Homo sapiens: one gene and its partners. The protein of the gene in region 1 purifies or fractionates together with the protein of each later gene. This does not show direct contact. Each region holds a gene or a part of one and is shown in the gene's direction. Other genes may lie near its edges. The genes, in order: OXCT1, C11orf58, LYPLA1, WDR1, SDHAF2, TIMM9 and ALDH1L1.

Region 1 (2,430 bases):
TGGGTTGTTTCTTTTCTGATGAATGCTTAAGCTATGTAAAATAGGTGTTTTTATAAACCATATGTCTGTGGACCTCTTTTGAAACAATATTTCTTTGATTTTATCTTCTTAACTTAAAAAATTAAAAATGTATTCCATATTTAAACATTATGTGTTAGAATAAACTTCCAGATGTCACTAGTCATACACCCAATGTATGTTCCATATTGAGCTGTAAAATATGAATAAAATAGAACCAATTTATGGTTCTTGCTCCCAAGAGCCTTGGCTTTATTCTCCAGGCAGGAATATACCTAAACCACCAGTGGCAAAACAAACAAACAAATAAAAAACTAGTAAAAGCAATGTTTGTTGATATGTTTGCAGTGGAATCTGAAAGAAGCTGCAGACATTCCTTGCCTAATTGAATAAATTTATACTCTCAGTATCTACTATGAACTGGCATTCTACCAGAGTCAAGCAATATACTTTTGGGATATTAATGCACTGGGAAGACAAATCATTGGCTTGTCTTCTATAGCTAAATCATGTCACCTTGTGCTTAGCCTGCAGATCACGTTGGCAGAATAAGCTCCTTTGGCTTGCATGAATTTACAACGTTGATGAGACTGGGAGAACAGAATGAGAAATGGTGGTTTAGTAGATGTTTTTCATTAAAAAGCAGGCAAAGTCAGTCTATATAAAGCGTTATCTTATTTTTGATGTCATTTTTCACATTGAGAATGTAAATGACATTAAGAGCTCAAAATAGGGCTGACATGACAAGGAAAAGGATCAGATGTTTAGTTAAAAAAATTAATGTGTCCAGTTTCTTTTTAAAGGAAGTGCTATGAAGCATCTATAGAAAATGATTTGTAGTAAAAAAGTTTCACTAAATTGGGCCAGGCACGGTGGCTTACGCCTGTAATCCCAGCACTTTGGGAGGCTGAGGCAGGTGGATCACCTGAGGTCGGGAGTTCAAGACCAGCCTTACCAACATGGAGAAACCCCGTCTCTACTAAATATACAAAAATTAGCTGGTCATGGTGGCACATGCCTGTAATCCCAGCTACTTGGGAGGCTAAGGCAGGAGAATCGCTTGAACCCAGGAGGCGGAGGTTGCGGTGAGCCAAGATCGCGCCATTGCACTCCAGCCTGGGCAACAAGAGCAAAACTCCGTCTCAAAAAAAAAAAAAAAAAAAGTTTCACTAAATTATTTCCACAGATGCTCTGTTGTTTAAAAAAAAGAAAGAAAATGAACTGTGAGATATACTTATCTAAATACTAAATGTTATTATTAGTAGAGTTGAAAATCTGTGCGTATGTGTGATGTTACTTTTTGTCTACTTATTCTGTTTATTTTGTCTGTATGTCTACTCTTAGAAATAAGTCATAATGCGTTCTCATTTACCATAAGCTATATACCAAATCATGCTGAACTTTATTATTATTGTTTATTCTTATTTATTCTTTTAGTAGACATTTTTGCCATTCTGGTTTAATATTTTAGTACAAAAATGGAAGACAAGACATTAACTCTTGATACTATGAAGAGTTAATTGTGAAGAGCTAATGCAGACATTTATAAATGAACTAAAACTATTTAACCTTATGAAAGCCAAATGACTGCCTGTTCTTTCAGTTTTTAATACTGATGATTTAACCTCTATTAGGAACCTCCCTTCTAGTTCTTTGAAACTTATATAATTATCTACTTATTCATTCATTTGTTCATTTATCAATTTAAGAAAATATTGTTTATTCTGGAAGGTAAAATGCTAATTGGGCTCATTTTGATTGCCACATCTTTCAGAATTTCAAAAAGCACCCAATTTTTGGTATTTCCTGCTTCCCATGGGGACTGTTACTAACTAGAACCCAATCAATATTTGCCATGTTGAATTAAGGAATCTGAACCTGGTACCACACTTTGAAAAATCTGTCTCAGTTAAACTGACCACTTATATTTATGGTTCTCCTGCAACCGGCTCTACCTTAAATATACATTCATTGTCACTTTTCTCTGCTTGCAGATTCGCAGGAAAGCATTGACTGTTTTATACACTGAACATAATTATAATCAACATTTAATTGTTTTAATGCTATTACTTCCATATTTTAATAACTTGGAATCCTCTTATTGCCTTTGTATCATTTCTATTCTGATTATGAAATTTCCGATAAGATTTATCATTGATCATACGTCTCTTCATTAATATGTATTTAGGTAATCCAAAGATTACATAAAGCATCTTTCAACAAAATTATGAATTGGCTGGATCTATTTTGAGGTTTTGGAGACTTGGGGTTTGTACTGCGTCTTAAGTGAAGTCTCAGAGGCATCAGTCTCGGAGATCAGTGATCCATCTGACAGGGGGCTTGGTTATTGGGATCCTTTGTTTTCCTCTGCTCCTCTTCCACCTGCTCCTTGTTGCCAGCCTTGTTCATCCT
Region 2 (3,500 bases), on another chromosome or scaffold:
TCAGGGCTCCCACTGCTTCTACATTATGGTGAGTTGTACAATTATTTCATTATATATTACGATGTGATAATAATAAAGTACACAATAAATGTAATACACTTGAATCATCTCAAAACCACCACCACCCCCCTCCATGGAAAAATTGTTTTCCACAAAACCGGTGCCTGGTGCCAAAAAGGTTGGAAACTGCTGCTTTAAACTTTTAAGTTGCTCTGATAAACTTGATAAGCAAAGAAAGGCATAAAGAAGAGTCAGTACATGACCATTTTATTTAGCCATTTGCTGAACAGAAGTGCCTAGCTTTTTTCACTGTTTTTGTTCAAAGATAGATAATTCTGTTTGTTAGAGAGTTTTTATTAGGTGACTAGAAAAAAATCTTTCAGGATAACATCTACTTATTATAAGTAAGCTAAAACATTTAATACCCAAAGTGCTTAGTAATAAATATTTATGCTATCTCAACATCAGGCATTTTATTTTCTATTAGGTAACCACCTATGGCATAAATTCTCAAAAGTCATAGTAAAATTAGTCACAATTAGATAAATCAGCCCTGAGTATAATAGCATCTGTATTATGGGTTTTTGTGTAAATTATTAATTTGACTGAAACATAACTAAAGTATCCTGGACATGCAGGGGAAGAAGACAAGAAAATTAATGAAGAACTGGAGTCTCAATATCAGCAAAGTATGGACAGTAAATTATCAGGAAGATATCGGCGACATTGTGGACTTGGCTTCAGTGAGGTAGTAATTAACTTATTTTCATTGGGAAGATAATTAGTTTTCAATTTGGTACCATTTATTGCTGTTAGATTACCCTAGCAATCAAGAATCCCATGTAGAAAGCTTTCTGTATGTAGTTATCTTAAAAATAATTTTGTATATGCCCTACTGGTCTTGTAGATAATCAGGAGAGATGTTTCTAAGGATTTTGTGTGGGGTTGTTTTTTCCTTTTTTTTTGAGATGCAGTCTCACTGTCACCAGGCTGGAGTGCAGTGGTGTGATGTCTTCCACCTCGCGGGTTCAAGTGATTCTTCTGCCTCAGCCTCCTGAGTAGCTGGGATTACAGGCGCCTGCCATCACGCCCAGCCAATTTTTGTAGAGATGGGGTTTCACCATGTAACCAGGCTGGCCTCAAACTCCTGACCTCAGGTGATCCCACCCACCTTGGGCTCCCAAAGTGCTGGTATTACAGGTGTGAGCCACCATACCCGGCCTTTTATTTTTCTTTTGGAGACAGTCTCTCTCTGTTGCCCCAGGCTGGGGTGCAGTGGCTCCATCTCAGCTCACTGCAACTTCCACCTCCCGGGTTCAAGCAATTCTGCCTCAGCCTCCCGAGTAGCTGGGATTACAGGTGCATGCCGCCACACCAGGCTAATTTTTTGTATTTCAGGAGAGATAGGGTTTCACCATGTTGCCCAGGCTGGCCTTGAACTACTGAGCTCAGGCAATCCGCCCACCTCAGCCTCCCAAAGTGCTAGGATTACAGGCTTGAACCACCATGTCCAGCCTCACCTGGCCTGTTTCTAAGGATTTTAAAGTGTGTTTTCTGAAAGTGAAAATTCTGCTTAATCATTAGAGTACCTTTCTTTCCCCCTTTTTTGAGACAGGTTCTCACTCTGTCACCCAGGCTGGAGTATAGTGGCACAGTCTCACTGCCACCTTAGCCTCCTGAGGACCTGGGATATAGGCCTGCACCACCATGCCTAGCTAATTTTTGTATTTTTTGTAGAGACGGAGTTTTGCTATGTTGCCCAGGCTGGTCTCAAAACTCCTGGGTTCAAGCGATCTTTCCGCCTTCCAAAGTGCTGGAACTACAGGTGTGAGCCACCATGTCCGGCCAGGGCACATTTTTAATAGGCGTGAACAACAACATGCTCACAAGTTAAGTAAAATATTTCATTTAGGTTTAAAATAATGGTTTAGGAGAGCTTTTTTATTTTTTTTTCAGTTGTTTCCTAAGTGATCTCTTTTTATATTATGAATTTATGTGTGACTACTGTTTACTCCAAAGTAATACAATGTGCAAAACATTGATAACTGATTTCTACATAAAGGTCAGTGGTTAACATGCCTTATTAATTTAAAAAATTGTTTCTTTCAGGAAAATATAATACCATGGTTTTCAAACTAGGGGAGGGGAGATAGGTGTGTGATCTTCAGAGCACCTCCCCTCTTGTTTTCTTTTGTCTTTTAAGAAATGGAGTCTTGCTCTGTCACACAGGCTGGAATGTAGTGGCATGATCATAGCTCGCTACAGCCTTGAACTCCTAGGCTCAAGCAATCCTCCCACCTCAGCCTCCCGAGTAGCTAGAACTACAGGCATGCACCACCATGCCTGGCTAATTTTTTTCTTTTTTCTTTTTTTTTTTTTAGTTTCTCTCTCTCTCTCTCCCTTTTTTTTTTTTTTTTTTTTTTTTTTTTTTTTTTTTTTAAGAGACAGGGTCTCACTATGTTGCCCAGGCTGGTCTCAAACTTTGGGCCTCAAGCAATCCCCCTGCCTCTCAGCCTCTTGAGTAGCTGGAATCCCAGCCACAGGTATGAGCCACTGGGCCCAGCCAGACAGAGCTCTTTCTTAAAATTCTACTCAAGTCTTAAAGCTGTTGTTCTAATGGCTACAAAGTAGAGTGTTTCTAAGACCGACAGAACTTACGGTCTTTCTCAGATTTTGTATGGGCTAATGTTTATTTTTAAAAGAGCCTGTTGATTGATGTTTTAGGTAGAAGACCATGATGGAGAAGGTGATGTGGCTGGAGATGATGATGATGACGATGATGATTCACCTGATCCTGAAAGTCCAGATGATTCTGAAAGCGATTCAGAGTCAGAGAAAGAAGAATCTGCTGAAGAACTCCAAGCTGCTGAGCACCCTGATGAAGTGGAGGATCCCAAAAACAAAAAAGATGCAAAAAGCAATTATAAAATGATGTTTGTTAAATCCAGTGGTTCATAACTCCCAAACGCTTAGTCTTTGTATTAAAAGTAAGCCTTATTGTTACAATGCACAGTGGAGGACTGCTTATAGAGCACAGACCTTTGTATTATAATTTTTAAAAAGGCCCTTTTAAATAATTACAAAGAGTGTTTGCTTTCAAATGCCATGGGTTACACTTTTATGGGCATGACTATAACCATTTTTGTAAAGAGTAAGAGTTGTATAAAATAAGAAATAAATACAGTACTCAACTTCCTTTCATATTAGCATCATCAACCCTCTAATTCACCTTATGGGGGAAATGCTTCTTTTTGTTTGTGATAGCTATTTTATCATTTCCTTCATATTTTTCTCTTATAAAAATGTATTTGATACTGTGATATGTTCACGAAAAGTATTCTTTAATTATTCTTTGTTATAGTAGAGCTGTTCATTATGGATATTTCTGCTGCCAGTCACAATCTAAATTAATTTTGGCAAAAGATTGGGTACTTAGTTTCCTGTTACTGAGTTAGCTCTACTCTTTTGGACCAAAGCAACATGAGAGCAAGTACTTTTCA
Region 3 (3,500 bases), on another chromosome or scaffold:
CTATTTTTAACAAATGCACAGGAGGCCGGGCACGGTGGCTCACACCTGTAATCCCAGCACTTTGGGAGGCTGAGGCAGGCGGATCGCCTGAGGTCGAGAGTTCGAGATCAGGCTGACCAACATGGAGAAACCCCGTCTCTATTATAAATACAAAATTAGCCGGGCATGGTAGCGCCTGCCCGTAATCCCAGCTACTTGGGAGGCTGAGCCAGGAGAATTGTTTGAACCTGGGAGGCAGAGGCTACAGTGAGCTGAGATCCCACTGTTGCACTCCAGCCTGGGCAACAAGAGTGAAACTCCGTCTCAGGAAAAAAAGAAAGAAAGAAATGCACAGGTGCACAGGAATGTGCTTTTCTTTTACATATGTGTACTGAAATATTGACAAGTATAATAATGTGAGGACTGGGATTGCCTTCAGGAAAATCTGGTTGGTGACTCTTGAGTGTGGGTGGGTGTAGGTGGGTGTGGGCAGCAATGGCAAGGCAGGCTGGCTGTGAATTGTTTTGCTTTTTGGTAATTTTTTATTTACATAGTTACTTAGAGACTGTCGCCCAGGTTAGAGTACAGTTGGTGATCATATCTCACTGCAGCCTCAAATTCCTGGTCTCCAGCAACTCTCCCGCCTCAGCTTCTGAGTAGCTGGGACTACAGGCATGTGCCACCATGCCTGGCTAATTTTTAAACTGTTTTGTAGAGATGAATTCTCATTATGTTGTCCAGGCTGGTGGGAAACTCTTGCCCTCAGGTGATCCTCCCCAAAAGTACTGGGATTACAGGCATGAGCCACTGAGCGCAGCCCTTTTGTTTTAAAAGAACTCTTTAAGGTCTTTAAAACAGGGAAAATGGCCGGGCGCGGTGGCTCACGCCTGTAATCCCAGCACTTTGGGAGGCCGAGGCGGGTGGATCATGAGGTCAGGAGATCGAGACCATCCTGGCTAACAAGGTGAAACCCCGTCTCTACTAAAAATACAAAAAATTAGCCGGGCGCGGTGGCGGGCGCCTGTAGTCCCAGCTACTCGGGAGGCTGAGGCAGGAGAATGGCGTGAACCCGGGAAGCGGAGCTTGCAGTGAGCCGAGATTGCGCCACTGCAGTCCGCAGTCCGGCCTGGGCAACAGAGCGAGACTCCGTCTCAAAAAAAAAAAAAAAACAGGGAAAATACATTCAAAAGATGTGAGATATTTGGGAATGTCAAACCAACAACACTGACTTATGGGATCATTAAAAAGTAGATTAGAGTTAGAATCCTAGAGTTGGGATTTTGTCTGAAAATAATAGATGACAAAAGTATGAGGGTAAGTGTTAGATGCTATGGAAAACAGGGAGGGCCTGGGCCCTGTGAAGAAGATACGTGGGCCTCATGAGGTCCAGAATGAAAGATTCTGTCCTAACAATAGAGTTGGCCTATGAAATACTTGTTACTTCTTTCCTCTCTGAAAATTCCTCTCAGAGAAAATTAGAATCAGACTCAGCCAGGAAAGAAAAAACAAAAGAGAATGTGCTACTGAACAAAGAAGACAGTGCTCAGGTTACATAGTTGGGGGTACATAGTGCCCTTACCCTTAGGTGAAAGGTGATTGAGGCCAAGGGATGTTGCTCATACCTGTAATCCTAGCACTTTGAGAGGCTGAGGCAGGAGGATCACTTGAGCCCAGGGGTTCAAAACCAGCCTGGGCAAGAGTCGCTACAAAAAAAAAAACAAAATTAGCTGGGCGTGGTGGCGCATGTCTGTGGCCCCCTCAGCTGCTTGAGAGTCTGAGGTGGGAGGATTGCTTGAGCCTGAGAGGTCAGCAACAGAGTGAGACCCTGTTTTGAGAGAGAGAGAGAGAGAGACAGAGACAGAGACACAGAGAGAGAGTGTGAGCGAGCAAAAGAGATTTATTCTGGTTTTTTTTTGTTTGTTTTTGAGATGGAGTCTTGCTCTCTTGCTCAGGCTGGAGTGCAGTGGCGCAATCTCAGCTCACTGCAACCTCCACCTCCTGGGTTCAAGTTATTCTCCTGTCTCAGCCTCCCAAGTAGCTAGGACTACAGGCCTGTGCCACCATGCCCGGCTACGTTTTGTATTTTTAGTACAGACGGTGTTTCACCATGTTGGCCAGGCTGGTCTCAAACTCCTGGCCTCAAGTTGATCTGCTGGCCTCAGCCTTCCAAAGTGCTGGGATTACAGGCGTGAGCCACTGTGCCTGGCCAATTCTGTGATTTTTTTTAAAAAACAATAGAATGAATGGTTTTAAACACTTTTTAAACCATTAACTTAACTACGTACAACACTTAACTACGTACAATTTTAAACACTTAACTACGTACAATTTTAAAATGACAACTTTTAGGTACAAATGCCTATGGTTCATTGAAGAGAGAAACATGGAATATATATGAGCAGAATTAACTATTAATTTTTTAAAAATCCATCTCTTGATGAGAGAAAGAACTGTTGTTAACAAAATATTTAATGGGAAATTATTGAAGTTTTAATTAAAATTTTATTTTTTTATTTTCAATTTTTGTGAGTACATAGGTGTACATATTTATATGTACGTGAGATGTTTTGATACAGGGATGCAATGTGAAATAAGCACATCATGGAGAATGGGGTGTCCATCCCCTCAAGCGTTTATCCTTTGAGTTACAAAGAATCCATTTACACTCTTGTAAGTTATTTTAAAATGTACACTAAGTTACTATTGACTATAGTCACCCTATTGTACTGTCAAATGGTAGGTCTTATTCTATTTTTTTTGTACCCATTAACTAGCTACACCTCACCTCCAGCCCCCTTCTACCCTTCCAGCCTCTGATAACCATACTTCTACTACTGTCTGTGTCTGTTAGTTCAGTTAGTTTTAGATCCCACAAAAAAGTGAGAACATGCAATGTTTGTCTTTCTGTGTCTGGCTTATTTCCCTTAACATAATGATCTCCAGTTCCACTTGTGTTGTTGCAAATGACTGGATCTCATTCTTTTTTTATGGCTGAATAGTACTTCATTGTGCATATGTACCACATTTTCTTCATCCAGTCATCTGTTGATGGACACATAGGTTACTTCCAAATCTTGGCTATTGGGAACAGTGCTACAACAAACATGGGAGTACAGATATCTCTTCAATATACTGATTTCCTTTCTTTTGGGTATATATCCCAAAAGATATATACCCAAATATAGTTAAAAGAAAGATACTTTCTTTTGAGTATATATCCAGTGGGATTGCTGGTTCATATGGTAGCTCAATTTTTAGTTATTTGAGGAACCTCCAAACTGTTCCCCATAGTAGTTGTACTAATTTACATTCCCACCAACAGTGTATGAGGGTTCTCTTTTCTCCACATCCTTGCCAGCATTTGCTATTAACTGTCTTTTGAATAAAAACCATTTTAACTGGGGTGAGACGATATTTCATTGTAGTTTTGATTTGCATTTTGCTGGCGATCAGTGATGTTGGGCACCTTTTCATATGCCTGTTTGCCATTTTTATGTCATCTTTTCGGAAATGTCTATTCA
Region 4 (2,481 bases), on another chromosome or scaffold:
ACAGAGTGCTAAAGCCTGGCCTCACAGCCAAGTCATGCTTGGTGGTTGAAGGCGCTCCTGGGCACCTGTGCCACCCGCAGGCCAAGGCTTCCTTCATCAGGATGTATGCCGTGCCAGGCAGGGGTGGGGGCTGAATCTCACCCTGTCTAGGTGGGGCTGCAGATCTAGAGGCTGGGGGCCACCCGGACCTGGGGAGCAGAGAGCTGGTGGGAACCCCCTTGCCTGCAGCTGGGAGCCTCCCTGGGCTTCATGGGCAGAGCTAGCCACAGAGGAGCCATAAGCGCACAGGCACCGTCTCACTATTGGCATCTCGGTTGGGTGGAGGCAAGATTATGGGGAATCGAATCTGTTCACCCACGGTGTGACTGTCACAGAGGGGAAAGTCAGTGGCCCCCCCAGTCCTGTGTGTTCCAGCCTCTTACTGGTTGTCATGCCTGCCCCATTTTAATAGGGCATGGATACAGTGTAGCTGTTTGTGTGGTGTCTGCATGTCATCGCTTTTATACATAAGAAGACATTGTTATTTCACTCCTGTGGAACTTGGTTGTCAAGACTTGGAGAGAGGGAGCCACTGGCATCTGTAGGTGGAGCCAGGGATGCTGCTAATTACCCTGCAGCACACAAAAAAGAGGTACCCGGCCCCGGGGTTCAGGAGTGTCACGTGGAGAATTCAGCCACACTGCCACCGTGCCAGGCTCCTGAGTTACAACGATTCGTGGCCATTTTCTTGGCCCTGGAGATGATTTAGGCACAGGTTGTTCCATCTTCCTAGTCCAAGATGTACATAGTTGCAGAGAAGTTTGGCTTTTCGTTAAATTGCACCCTTTCTTCCCAGATGCACACCGGCTGCACCATGTCAGCAGCCTGGCCTGGCTGGACGAGCACACGCTGGTCACGACCTCCCATGATGCCTCTGTCAAGGAGTGGACAATCACCTACTGAGGAGCCCCACCCCCGCCTCTGGATGGACCGAATCAGGGACTAGAGTTTAACTGCAGCGGAACATGTCATTTCTCTATTTCTGTGACGCGCCCCCATGCCCCCACCCCACCACAAGAGGCAGGAGGGCCCAGTCATGACCCTCGTCTCTGCAGGGTGTCTGTACACGTTCTTCTGAAAGCTTTAGACAGTAACAGTTTGCACATGAAAAATAAAGCGAGCACCTAAACAATGTGTGGAGCATAACTAAAACCCACAGCCCAACCAAACCTTGAGAATGCGAAACATTCCAGAGGCAGTAGCCTCCAAAGCACACAGAGCCCCTGGCCCCGCCGCGGCTCTCACTATCTGTCAGGGGAGGTTGTACAGGTGAATGAGCCGGGGGGCTCATGTTCCTGCCTGCAGAACATTTCTGTACTAGTGAGAAGAGGGAATATGCATTGCAGTTCAGCAAAGCCGGAATTCTGTGTTGAACAGATGTCTGTCTCCCTAGTGTGTGACTCACACCTTGTGGCTGCCTTCAGAGCGCCACCTCCAGATCAGATGGGGACACACAACCCCTGGATATGTTTCATTGTCAGATTTTGTGCTTGATTTTAAGAATGGAATTGTGGGTATCTTTCCTTTTTTTTTAATGTATCTTAACTGTTGCCTGTCAGTGTTTACAAACTAGTGCGTTGACGGCACCGTGTCCAAGTTTTTAGAACCCTTGTTAGCCAGACCGAGGTGTCCTGGTCACCGTTTCACCATCATGCTTTGATGTTCCCCTGTCTTTCCCTCTTCTGCTCTCAAGAGCAAAGGTTAATTTAAGGACAAAGATGAAGTCACTGTAAACTAATCTGTCATTGTTTTTACCTTCCTTTTCTTTTTCAGTGCAGAAATTAAAAGTAAGTATAAAGCACCGTGATTGGGAGTGTTTTTGCGTGTGTCGGAATCACTGGTAAATGTTGGCTGAGAACAATCCCTCCCCTTGCACTTGTGAAAACACTTTGAGCGCTTTAAGAGATTAGCCTGAGAAATAATTAAATATCTTTTCTCTTCACTGTGGGTCACTGACTTTGTGTGATGGGGGTGTGTGGGGCGGCTGGGTGGGGAGGAACGTTTGTGGGATTTTCATGGCTTTAGAGGTCTTACCAGTCTGCAGCCTCAGGCAGGAAATGTTTGGAACACAGGATTGTCAGATCCATCATGTGGTGGAAGGGAAGCCCCAGAGAAGGGGCTGGAACCCTCGGTTCCTGCTCCCAACCATACCGCCAGATCACCCTCTGACCTGGGTCACATCCCTGCCCTTCTCTGAGCCTAAGTTTCTTTGTCAACTGAAAACACTGGACCAGATGATGTCTGCATCCCATCTACTTCTCAAATTCTTAGCAGCCTGTATAGCTTTCAGGTAAGGAATAGCATGCATTTAGATGTTAAAAATCAAATTCCCAAACATCCAAATTCATTGCAAAGTGAAAGGCACTGTTCTTTGAAACTGCCTTTTGTACTTTTGTAACAATTGTAAAGTTGTCTAAATGTGCAATCCCAATTAAAAAAAAA
Region 5 (3,500 bases), on another chromosome or scaffold:
TCATGATCATGCTTGAGCAGGGAGGGAAGAGACTATGGCAAATGAGTGCTACAAATTTTTCTGCTGGATTCGATGCAGCTGGTTTTGTGCTCACCTGGGGAGCAGGAGCCTCTTACTGGTTTCTGGATTTCTCACAGGGAATTGGTTTGTTTGTTGCTGTTGGCTCAGTGTCTCCATCGGGGAAGGAGGATCTGGGGTTTCCTACTCCACCATCTTCACCTCTTGCTGAGGTCACCACCTTGACATCATATCTTGATAAGTTGTCAACTTCTCTGGATTGGGAGCCTTTGGGGGATTAGGGATCATGCTGTCTCTGTGTGCTCAGGATTTGACACAGGTGAGTGAGTAGAGTATAAACCACACTGTAAGAATTTTAAGGGAGTGCAAAGGAAGGAAAAATTATTTCTGCTGGGATAGTTTCTGGAAAGGCACTGGTTAGGGACACATTTGCAGTTAGGACTGTGTTTTAATTCTAATTGCAGTTACTATTTGGATGATTTTGGGTGAGTTATTGAACCTTCCTGAGCCTCTGTTTCCTTGGCTATAAAGTGGGGACAATATCAGCATAATTTCTTTTCTTTTTTCAGGGGGATAGGGTCCGTTGCCCAGGCTGGAATGCAGTGGTACGATCACAGCTCACTGCAGCGTTGACCTTCCCAGGCTCAGATGATCTTCCCACTTCAGCCTCCTGAGTAGCTGGGACCACAGGCACCATGGTGGGACTACCCCACTATGCCTGGCTAATTTTTGTATTTTTGGTAGAGACAGGGTCTCGCTATGTTGCTCAGGCTGGTCTCGAACTCCTGAACTCAAGTAATCATGCTCGCGTTGACCTCCCAAAGTGCTGGGATTACAGGTGTGCGCCACCACGCCTGGCCAGCAGTGTAATTTCCTCATGACTAAATGTGATTGAATGCATTCAGCACCTAGTAAGCATTGAGTAAATGATAGCGATGATAGTCGTCATTATTGTAAAGATGTTTGTGGTTTGTTCATTTCAGATGCTTGCTCTGTCAAGGCACAGCCTATTGTCTCCTTTGCTCAGTGTGACATCATTCAGACGCTTCTACAGAGGTGACAGCCCAACAGATTCCCAAAAGGACATGATTGAAATCCCTTTGCCTCCATGGCAGGAGAGAACTGATGAATCCATAGAAACCAAAAGAGCCCGCCTGCTCTATGAGAGCAGAAAGAGGGGAATGTTGGAAAACTGCATTCTTCTTAGGTATGGGACTAGGAGTCTTTTTTTTTAAATCGGGCAGCTTCCTGAGCCAGAGTAGGTTCAGAGAGACTCCCAGGAGTAGGAGTCTTGGTGTCACTTCTCTTTTATTAGACACAGCCTTCTCAACCTCTTTTTCTTTTTTTCTTTCTTGTTTTTAGTCTTTTTGCTAAAGAACATCTGCAGCACATGACAGAAAAGCAGCTGAACCTCTATGACCGCCTGATTAACGAGCCTAGTAATGACTGGGATATTTACTACTGGGCCACAGGTACTGGGTATGATAAGCAGCATAATGTGAAAATAGGACAGTTTAGGCTGATTTGAGTCTAGAATTGTATCCTAGATAATTTTTTTCTTTCTTTTTTTTTTTTGAGACTGAGTTTCACTCTCGTTGCCCAGGCTGGAGTGCAATGGCATGATCTCGGCTCACTGCAACCTCTACCTTCCAGGTTCAAGCGATTCTCCAGCCTCAGCCTCCTGAGTACCTGGGATTACAGGCATGTGTCACCACACCCGGGTAATTTTATATTTTTAATAGAGACAGGGTTTCTCTGTGTTGGTCAGGCTAGTCTCGAACTCCTGACCTCAGGTGATCCGCCCGCCTCGGCCTCCCAAAATCCTGGGATTACAGGCATGAGCCACTGTGCCTGGCTTATAATTTTTTTCTTTTATTCATGAAGTAGACACTCAACCCAAACACTGTTCAAATTTTTGTTAAGTGTACAAAATTTATCAGTTAAAGTTCTTTATTTGCGAGACAGAGTGGAAACTTGTTTGTCTCACTTAAGCAAAAAGGAATTTAGTGGAAGGGTATATGAAGCTCACAGTATCAAAGGTTGAAGAAGAACCACTCTGGGAATGGAGTGGAATCAGACAACTAAGTCTGCATAGCCAAAGCTCCTCAATAGTTTCATTCTGGCCGGCCGCAGTGGCTCATGCCTCTAATCTGAGCACTTTGGGAGGCTGAGGCGGATGGATCGCTTGAGGTTAGGAGCTTGAGAGCAGCCTGGCCAACACAGCGAAACCTCATCTCTCCAAAAATTCAAAAATTAGCCGAACATGGTGGCGGACAACTGCAGTCTCAGCTACTTGGGAGGCTGAGGCAAGAGAATCGCTTGAGCCTGGGAGACAGAGATTGCAGTGAGCTGAGATTGCACCACTGCACTCCATCCTGGGCAAAAGAGTGAGACTATGTCTCAAAAAAAAAAAAGTTTCATTCAGGCACTACCTTTATGAGGAATGAATTCTAACTGTGTATAGTTAGGATTAACTTTGGCTATGAGTAAAAAAACATCCAAAACAGTAATGGCTTAAACAAGGTAGAACTGTCTTTCTCATGACAGAAGTCCAGAGGAAGGCACACTCCAGAGCTCATAGAGGGGCTTCAAAAAGTCATGGGTCCAGGTCCCCCCTACTTGCTGCTCTTTCATCCTAGCATGTGTTTTCTACTTCTTGATCCAGGACAGCCATATTTCAGCCCGGAAAAAGTGTGTGGAAGTGCATACCCCTCCTTTGTAGATCCCGCTCAGGAAATTATCCAGCATACTTCCACTTATTTGCCATTGGCCACAGCTTAGTTACTTGGCTACGTCTAACCATAAGGAAAAATAATATAGTCTATTCCATCTGCCCAGCTGTGTTGGAGATTCTGTTATCGATGAAAACTGGATATTAGGGGACGTGTCATTCATTCTGCCACACTCCGGGACTGCTGTTTTTGTGTCTCCACTCAATATTTGTATCAGAAAGTAGCAGCCATTGTCTATGGGTTCCAGGTATGAAGAGTGATAAGACAGAGTCTGGAGCCTTATACAATCACTGGAAAGCCAACAAAGTCCAAATATTTACTCTCCAACCCTTTACAGAACAAGTTTGCCCTGACTTAGCATAATGCATTTGAGATGCGTATCCTTGTTGTTACTTGTATCAATAGTTCATTCTTTTGTGTTGAGTAATATTCCATTGTGTGGATGTACCATGGTCTGTTCATCTTTTGACCAGCTGAGGGACATTAGGATTATTTCCAGCTTTAGGTGATTATAAATGAAGCCACTGTAAACATTTGCATACAGATTTTGTGAACATAGGTTTTAGTTTTTCTTGAGTGAATACTCAGGAGAAGGATTTGCTGGGTCATGTGGTAAGTGTATATGTTTAACTTTATAATAGGGCCAGGTGTGGTAGCTCATGCCTGTAATTTCAGCATGAGATCACATGCTCCTCCTCTGGGAAGCCGAGGCAGGTGGATCACTTGAGGCCAGGAGTTCGAGACCAGCCT
Region 6 (2,537 bases), on another chromosome or scaffold:
CACAGCCTTTCTGTATGGCCCTGGGAATTCTGGTTGGCTTTGGAAAAAACAAAGCTTGACTTTGGTGGCTCATATTGAAAACCTCATCCTATTAGAAGTCTTAACTATTTTTTTAAGACAGGGTCTCGCTCTGTTACCCAGGCTGGAGTGCAATGGCATAATCATAGCTCACTGTAACTTTGAACTCCCAGCACATTGGGAGGTCAAGGCAGGTGGATCACTTGAGCCCAGGAGTTCGAAACCAGCCTCGGCAACATGGTGAAACCCTGTCTTTACAAAAAATACAAAAAAAAATTAGCTAGACATGTTGGTACATGCCTGTGGTCCCAGCTACTCGGGAGCTGAGGTGAGAGGGTCACCTGAGCCCGGGAGGCAGAGGTTGCAGTGAGCTGTGATTGCACCACTGCACTCTAGCCTGGGCGACAGAGCAAGACCCTGTCAACAACAACAACAACAAAAAGCACCAGCCCTCATCTCTACTAAAAAATAAAATGAAAAATTAGCCAGGCGTGGTGGTGTGTGCCTGTAGTCTCAGCTACTCCAGGGGCTGAGGTAGGAGGATCACTTAAGCCCAGGAGGTTGAGGCCACAGTGAGGCACTGCACTCCACCCTGGGCAACAGAGAGAGAACCTGTCTCAAAAAAATAAATAAATAGGCTGGGCGCGGTGGCTCACGCCTGGAACTTCAGCACATTGGGAGGCTGAGGCAGGCGGATCACGAGGTCAGGAGATCAAGACCATCCTGGCTAACACAGTGAAACCCCGTCTCTACTAAAAATACAAAAAATTAGCCAGGCATGGTGGCAGGCACCTGTAGTCCCAGCTACTCGGGATGCTGAGGCAGGAGAATGGCGTGAACTCAGGAGGCGGAGCTTGCAGTGAGCCGAGATCACGCCACTGCACTCAAGCCTGGGTGACACAGCGAGACTCCCTCTCAAAAATAAATAAATAAATAAATAAAATTAAAATAAGTAAAAGGTTGAGAATTAAGAATGTTGTTTTCTCATTAAAAAGGAACAAACTTACTACTGGGTCTACATTTTAATAATCGAAACAAGAAGACAGGAATGTGGGCTTTCACTTAATACACTTGCAGAAAATCTAGTCCAGAAGCTTTTTGAAAACAGAGACTTATCATTGCTCTTAGTGACTACAAACTGGCAGGCATTCAATATATATTAATGCTTGTCAGTGAATGAAAGTATCAATTAAAAGCTATGGTCAGTTGCTGCCAATTAGTACTATTTAATTCTCAGATATATTCAAAGAAAAGCAAACTACCCCACTGATTCTTTTAGAATACATGCATTTTAAAAAATTCATATTTTTGTGTTGCCTCTTGGATCTTCCCTTTTCATTCCTAGACCACCTGTTCAGAACATTGCTTACAGAAATATTTAAAAATGACACAAAGAATATCCATGAGATTTCAGGAATATCATATTCAGCAGAATGAAGCCCTGGCAGCCAAAGCAGGACTCCTTGGCCAACCACGATAGAGAAGTCCTGATGGATGAACTTTTGATGAAAGATTGCCAACAGCTGCTTTATTGGAAATGAGGACTCATCTGATAGAATCCCCTGAAAGCAGTAGCCACCATGTTCAACCATCTGTCATGACTGTTTGGCAAATGGAAACCGCTGGAGAAACAAAATTGCTATTTACCAGGAATAATCACAATAGAAGGTCTTATTGTTCAGTGAAATAATAAGATGCAACATTTGTTGAGGCCTTATGATTCAGCAGCTTGGTCACTTGATTAGAAAAATAAACCATTGTTTCTTCAATTGTGACTGTTAATTTTAAAGCAACTTATGTGTTCGATCATGTATGAGATAGAAAAATTTTTATTACTCAAAGTAAAATAAATGGAAATATCACTGAGCAGTTGTTTATACTGTATGGTACCATAGTATTCTCACTGGACTGTGGATACGTTGAAATGTTTTTCAATCAGGATCATCCTCCAAGCAGTCCTGTTCATTCATGTCTGCCTCAAATTGCTGGTGAATACATAAAATAGTTACTTGCTAATCATTTCAATGCATGATCCTTTTCTTGCCTCCCTTGTGTCAGGGTGGGCATTACATATACTTTTCTTTTTTTTTTTTTTTGAGACGGAGTTTTGCTTTCGTCACCCAGGATGGAGTGCAACGGCACAATCTCAGCTCACTGCAACCTCCACCTCCCCAGTTCAAGCAATTCTGCTGCTTCAGCCTCCCAAGTAGCTGGGATTACAGGTGTGTGCCACCATGCCCGGCTAACTTTTGTATTTTTAGTAGAAATGGGGTTTCACCACATTGGCCAGGCTGGTCTCGAACTTCTGACCTCAGGTGATCCGCCTGCCTCAGCCTCCCAAAGTGCTAGGATTACAGGCGTGAGCCACCGCGCCTGGCCACATATCTTACCTACATTTTCGTATATCTTCAGGAAACAATCCCATCTGCCCTAGTTTGGGAATGTTTAAGAGTTGACTGTTATACTGTAATGGAGTTCATGTTTGTGTTTTGTTCAAAAGCTGACAGTCAAATATGATA
Region 7 (2,259 bases), on another chromosome or scaffold:
CCAGAGTGGTGGGAGTGGGCCAAGGGGGAGCAGGAGGGAGGAGAGAAGGCCTGAGAGGCAGGTAGGGGCCAGATTGAAGGCCCATGGGCCATGGTCAGGGGCTCAGGTTGCATCCTTAGTGTAAAGAGGAGCCATGGGACCAAATGTACCCCCGGGTGAACACCACGGGTGTTGCAAGTCTCCCAGTAGAGGTGAAGTTACTCAGGCGGCAGCAGGCGGGGTCCACCGGCACATAGCAGGCGGGGTCCCCCGGCACACAGCACAGGCTCCCCAGTGCTCTGCCTGCTGGGTGGCATGGAGTTCTGCTCCGGCCCTCTCTCCCTGGGCTGCTCCAAGCCTTGGGCCTCGTCCTGCTCTCTCAGCAGGGGGGACTAGACAGGTCTGATGGGCAAGCTTGGCAAGGGTGGCTGGCAAGGTCCGGGGAAGCCATATGCTGTCTCAGAGGTCCCACCTGTCTCTCCAGGCTCCTGTGCCAGCCCAGAGACCACAGGGAAGGTCATGCTGAGGCTGGGGGTCAAAGGCTGGTCACTGTTTCCAGTTTTCTCTCCTCCCCCTGCCCCCATCTTTCAAGCCCTGCAGAAGCCCCCAAGGGTACCCATGAGAGGGGCCCATGTGTGCCCACAGGGCTGGACTCACATGCACGCATGTGTAGGCTGGACACTCCTGCTTCCTCTGTCCCTGTCGGCCTCCTCTTCCTGCCTTCTCCCAGGCCACCTTCCTGGTGTCCACCAGGGGAATCCATGAGGCCCATGGCCACCCAGGGAAGGCTGTGGCTGCCAAGTCCCCAGGACGTGATCTGGGCCCCTTATGAATCCTCCCCGAGTTCCCTCAGCTCCCTCCTAACCCTAGTCCCCATGTCCTGCTGAGAGGACCAGCACCCTCCTGGGACAGGCCCACAAGCCAAGCCTTCCAAGCAGCCTGCCTGGGCAGACTCAGGACCTCAGAGGGACGGGGCAGTGCCACTCCTGGGGCCAGCCAGAGCTGCTGGGGAGCTGTCAGGCAGCCCCAGGCCTCACACTTGTCATGGGGCTGAGATGCACCAGCCACATAGCACTGCCAAGGCCTGGGGCCTCAGGGCCCTGCGAGGCATCCCCTTTTCCCAGCCACAGCTTGATGCAGACGTAGCTGGGGGCAGCCATGAGAGAAGAGATGGGCCAGTGAGTCTGGGCAGTAACGCCAAGTCTCTCCACCCCCTTCCACCTGAAGGGGCTTCCCACTGTCCAGACAAGGCGGTGGGAGCTGGGGAAGATTCTTAAATGGCTGCCTCAGATTGGCTTTGTATTCTGGGGAGTCCTGGCCCACTATCCACTGCCAGGGATAACCTGGGTAAGATTCATGACCTCGCTGGGCCTCGACTTCTCACCTGGAAGTGGGGTGAGCCAGAGCTGCCCCCACGTGGTTGCTGAGGAATAAGACACTTGCAGCCCCGAGCAGTGCCCTGCCTGTGGTGGGAGCTGCTGTGACCTTTGTGGTGTCTTACAGGAGAGGCGGCTCTGAACGAGTACCTGCGGGTCAAGACAGTGACCTTCGAATACTGAAGAAAGGTCTTTGTGAGAAGAAAGTCCCTGCCCCTCCCTCGTGGCTGGGGCCCCCTCCCTCTTGAGCCTGGGTGCACAGCACCTCCCACCTGGGGGGCTAGTGGAAGCCCTCCTGCCTGCACACCATGTCTGCATCTTGGACGCCCTCTGTCCAGTCAGAAGCAGCCCTTGGCTGGGTGAGGTGTGCCCCTCCCAGGGAGAATAAAGCTTCTGAAGAGAGACCGTCCACATCTCTGCGTTTCTCTGCTCCACCTGTGGGTGTTCCTGGGTGGGCCTGGAAGTTGCGCAATCACCTGGGTATGATGGTGTTGCTTGGCCTGGGAGAGCCAGACACCTGGGGAGAGAGACAGGAGGAAATGGGTGTGGGTCATCTCAGGCCCCAAAGAGCAGAAGCTGCGACAGTCAGGGCTGCAGGAGGTTTGGAAGGGTAACCCCTGGGAAACAGGTGGGAAGACGGGGATTGAGCTGGGTGAGCCCTGGACTGGGAAGCAGCTCAGACTCCCTCAGCAGATGGGGCCGGGCCCTCGCCCCTGCTCTGTCAGCACGGCCGTGCTCTCAGCTGGTAGCCAGCCCGAGGGCCTGCAGTGGAGGGCTGGGCCCAGCTGGGAATGCCAGGCAGAGCTGTCTTCCGTCTGACACGGTGTCTCCTATGTACCTTTATGGCTTCTCCTTGGCCCAGGGACCTGAGCTATAGCTCTCTTTCCTGTGCCCTCTCCCTGTA

What was found.
Region 2: the proteins of OXCT1 (region 1) and C11orf58 fractionate together in Homo sapiens (co-fractionation; one large-scale study listed by BioGRID). This does not show direct contact.
Region 3: the proteins of OXCT1 (region 1) and LYPLA1 fractionate together in Homo sapiens (co-fractionation; one large-scale study listed by BioGRID). This does not show direct contact.
Region 4: the proteins of OXCT1 (region 1) and WDR1 fractionate together in Homo sapiens (co-fractionation; one large-scale study listed by BioGRID). This does not show direct contact.
Region 5: the proteins of OXCT1 (region 1) and SDHAF2 fractionate together in Homo sapiens (co-fractionation; one large-scale study listed by BioGRID). This does not show direct contact.
Region 6: the proteins of OXCT1 (region 1) and TIMM9 fractionate together in Homo sapiens (co-fractionation; one large-scale study listed by BioGRID). This does not show direct contact.
Region 7: the proteins of OXCT1 (region 1) and ALDH1L1 purify together in Homo sapiens (co-immunoprecipitation; one large-scale study listed by IntAct). This does not show direct contact.

What each region holds. Positions count from the first base shown.
Region 1 is NC_000005.10:41,731,996-41,734,425, reverse strand, and holds part of OXCT1 (succinyl-CoA:3-ketoacid coenzyme A transferase 1, mitochondrial isoform 3 precursor), read left to right. Parts: intron 1-2,430. UniProt on the Homo sapiens protein: Key enzyme for ketone body catabolism.
Region 2 is NC_000011.10:16,752,147-16,755,646, forward strand, and holds part of C11orf58 (small acidic protein), read left to right. Parts: intron 1-638; coding exon 639-748; intron 749-2,724; coding exon 2,725-2,958; 3' UTR 2,959-3,500.
Region 3 is NC_000008.11:54,056,948-54,060,447, reverse strand, and holds part of LYPLA1 (acyl-protein thioesterase 1), read left to right. Parts: intron 1-3,500. UniProt on the Homo sapiens protein: Acts as an acyl-protein thioesterase. Hydrolyzes fatty acids from S-acylated cysteine residues in proteins such as trimeric G alpha proteins or HRAS.
Region 4 is NC_000004.12:10,073,839-10,076,319, reverse strand, and holds the end of WDR1 (WD repeat-containing protein 1), read left to right. Parts: intron 1-835; coding exon 836-942; 3' UTR 943-1,981; downstream 1,982-2,481.
Region 5 is NC_000011.10:61,436,624-61,440,123, forward strand, and holds part of SDHAF2 (succinate dehydrogenase assembly factor 2, mitochondrial), read left to right. Parts: intron 1-1,001; coding exon 1,002-1,225; intron 1,226-1,380; coding exon 1,381-1,490; intron 1,491-3,500.
Region 6 is NC_000014.9:58,407,995-58,410,531, reverse strand, and holds the end of TIMM9 (mitochondrial import inner membrane translocase subunit Tim9), read left to right. Parts: intron 1-1,363; coding exon 1,364-1,498; 3' UTR 1,499-1,949; coding exon of another isoform or gene 1,950-2,003; 3' UTR 2,004-2,037; downstream 2,038-2,537. Other genes in the region: TOMM20L (TOMM20-like protein 1), read right to left, coding at 1,950-2,003. UniProt on the Homo sapiens protein: Mitochondrial intermembrane chaperone that participates in the import and insertion of multi-pass transmembrane proteins into the mitochondrial inner membrane.
Region 7 is NC_000003.12:126,103,070-126,105,328, reverse strand, and holds the end of ALDH1L1 (cytosolic 10-formyltetrahydrofolate dehydrogenase), read left to right. Parts: intron 1-636; exon of another isoform or gene 637-718; intron 719-1,363; exon of another isoform or gene 1,364-1,482; coding exon 1,483-1,538; 3' UTR 1,539-1,759; downstream 1,760-2,259. UniProt on the Homo sapiens protein: Cytosolic 10-formyltetrahydrofolate dehydrogenase that catalyzes the NADP(+)-dependent conversion of 10-formyltetrahydrofolate to tetrahydrofolate and carbon dioxide.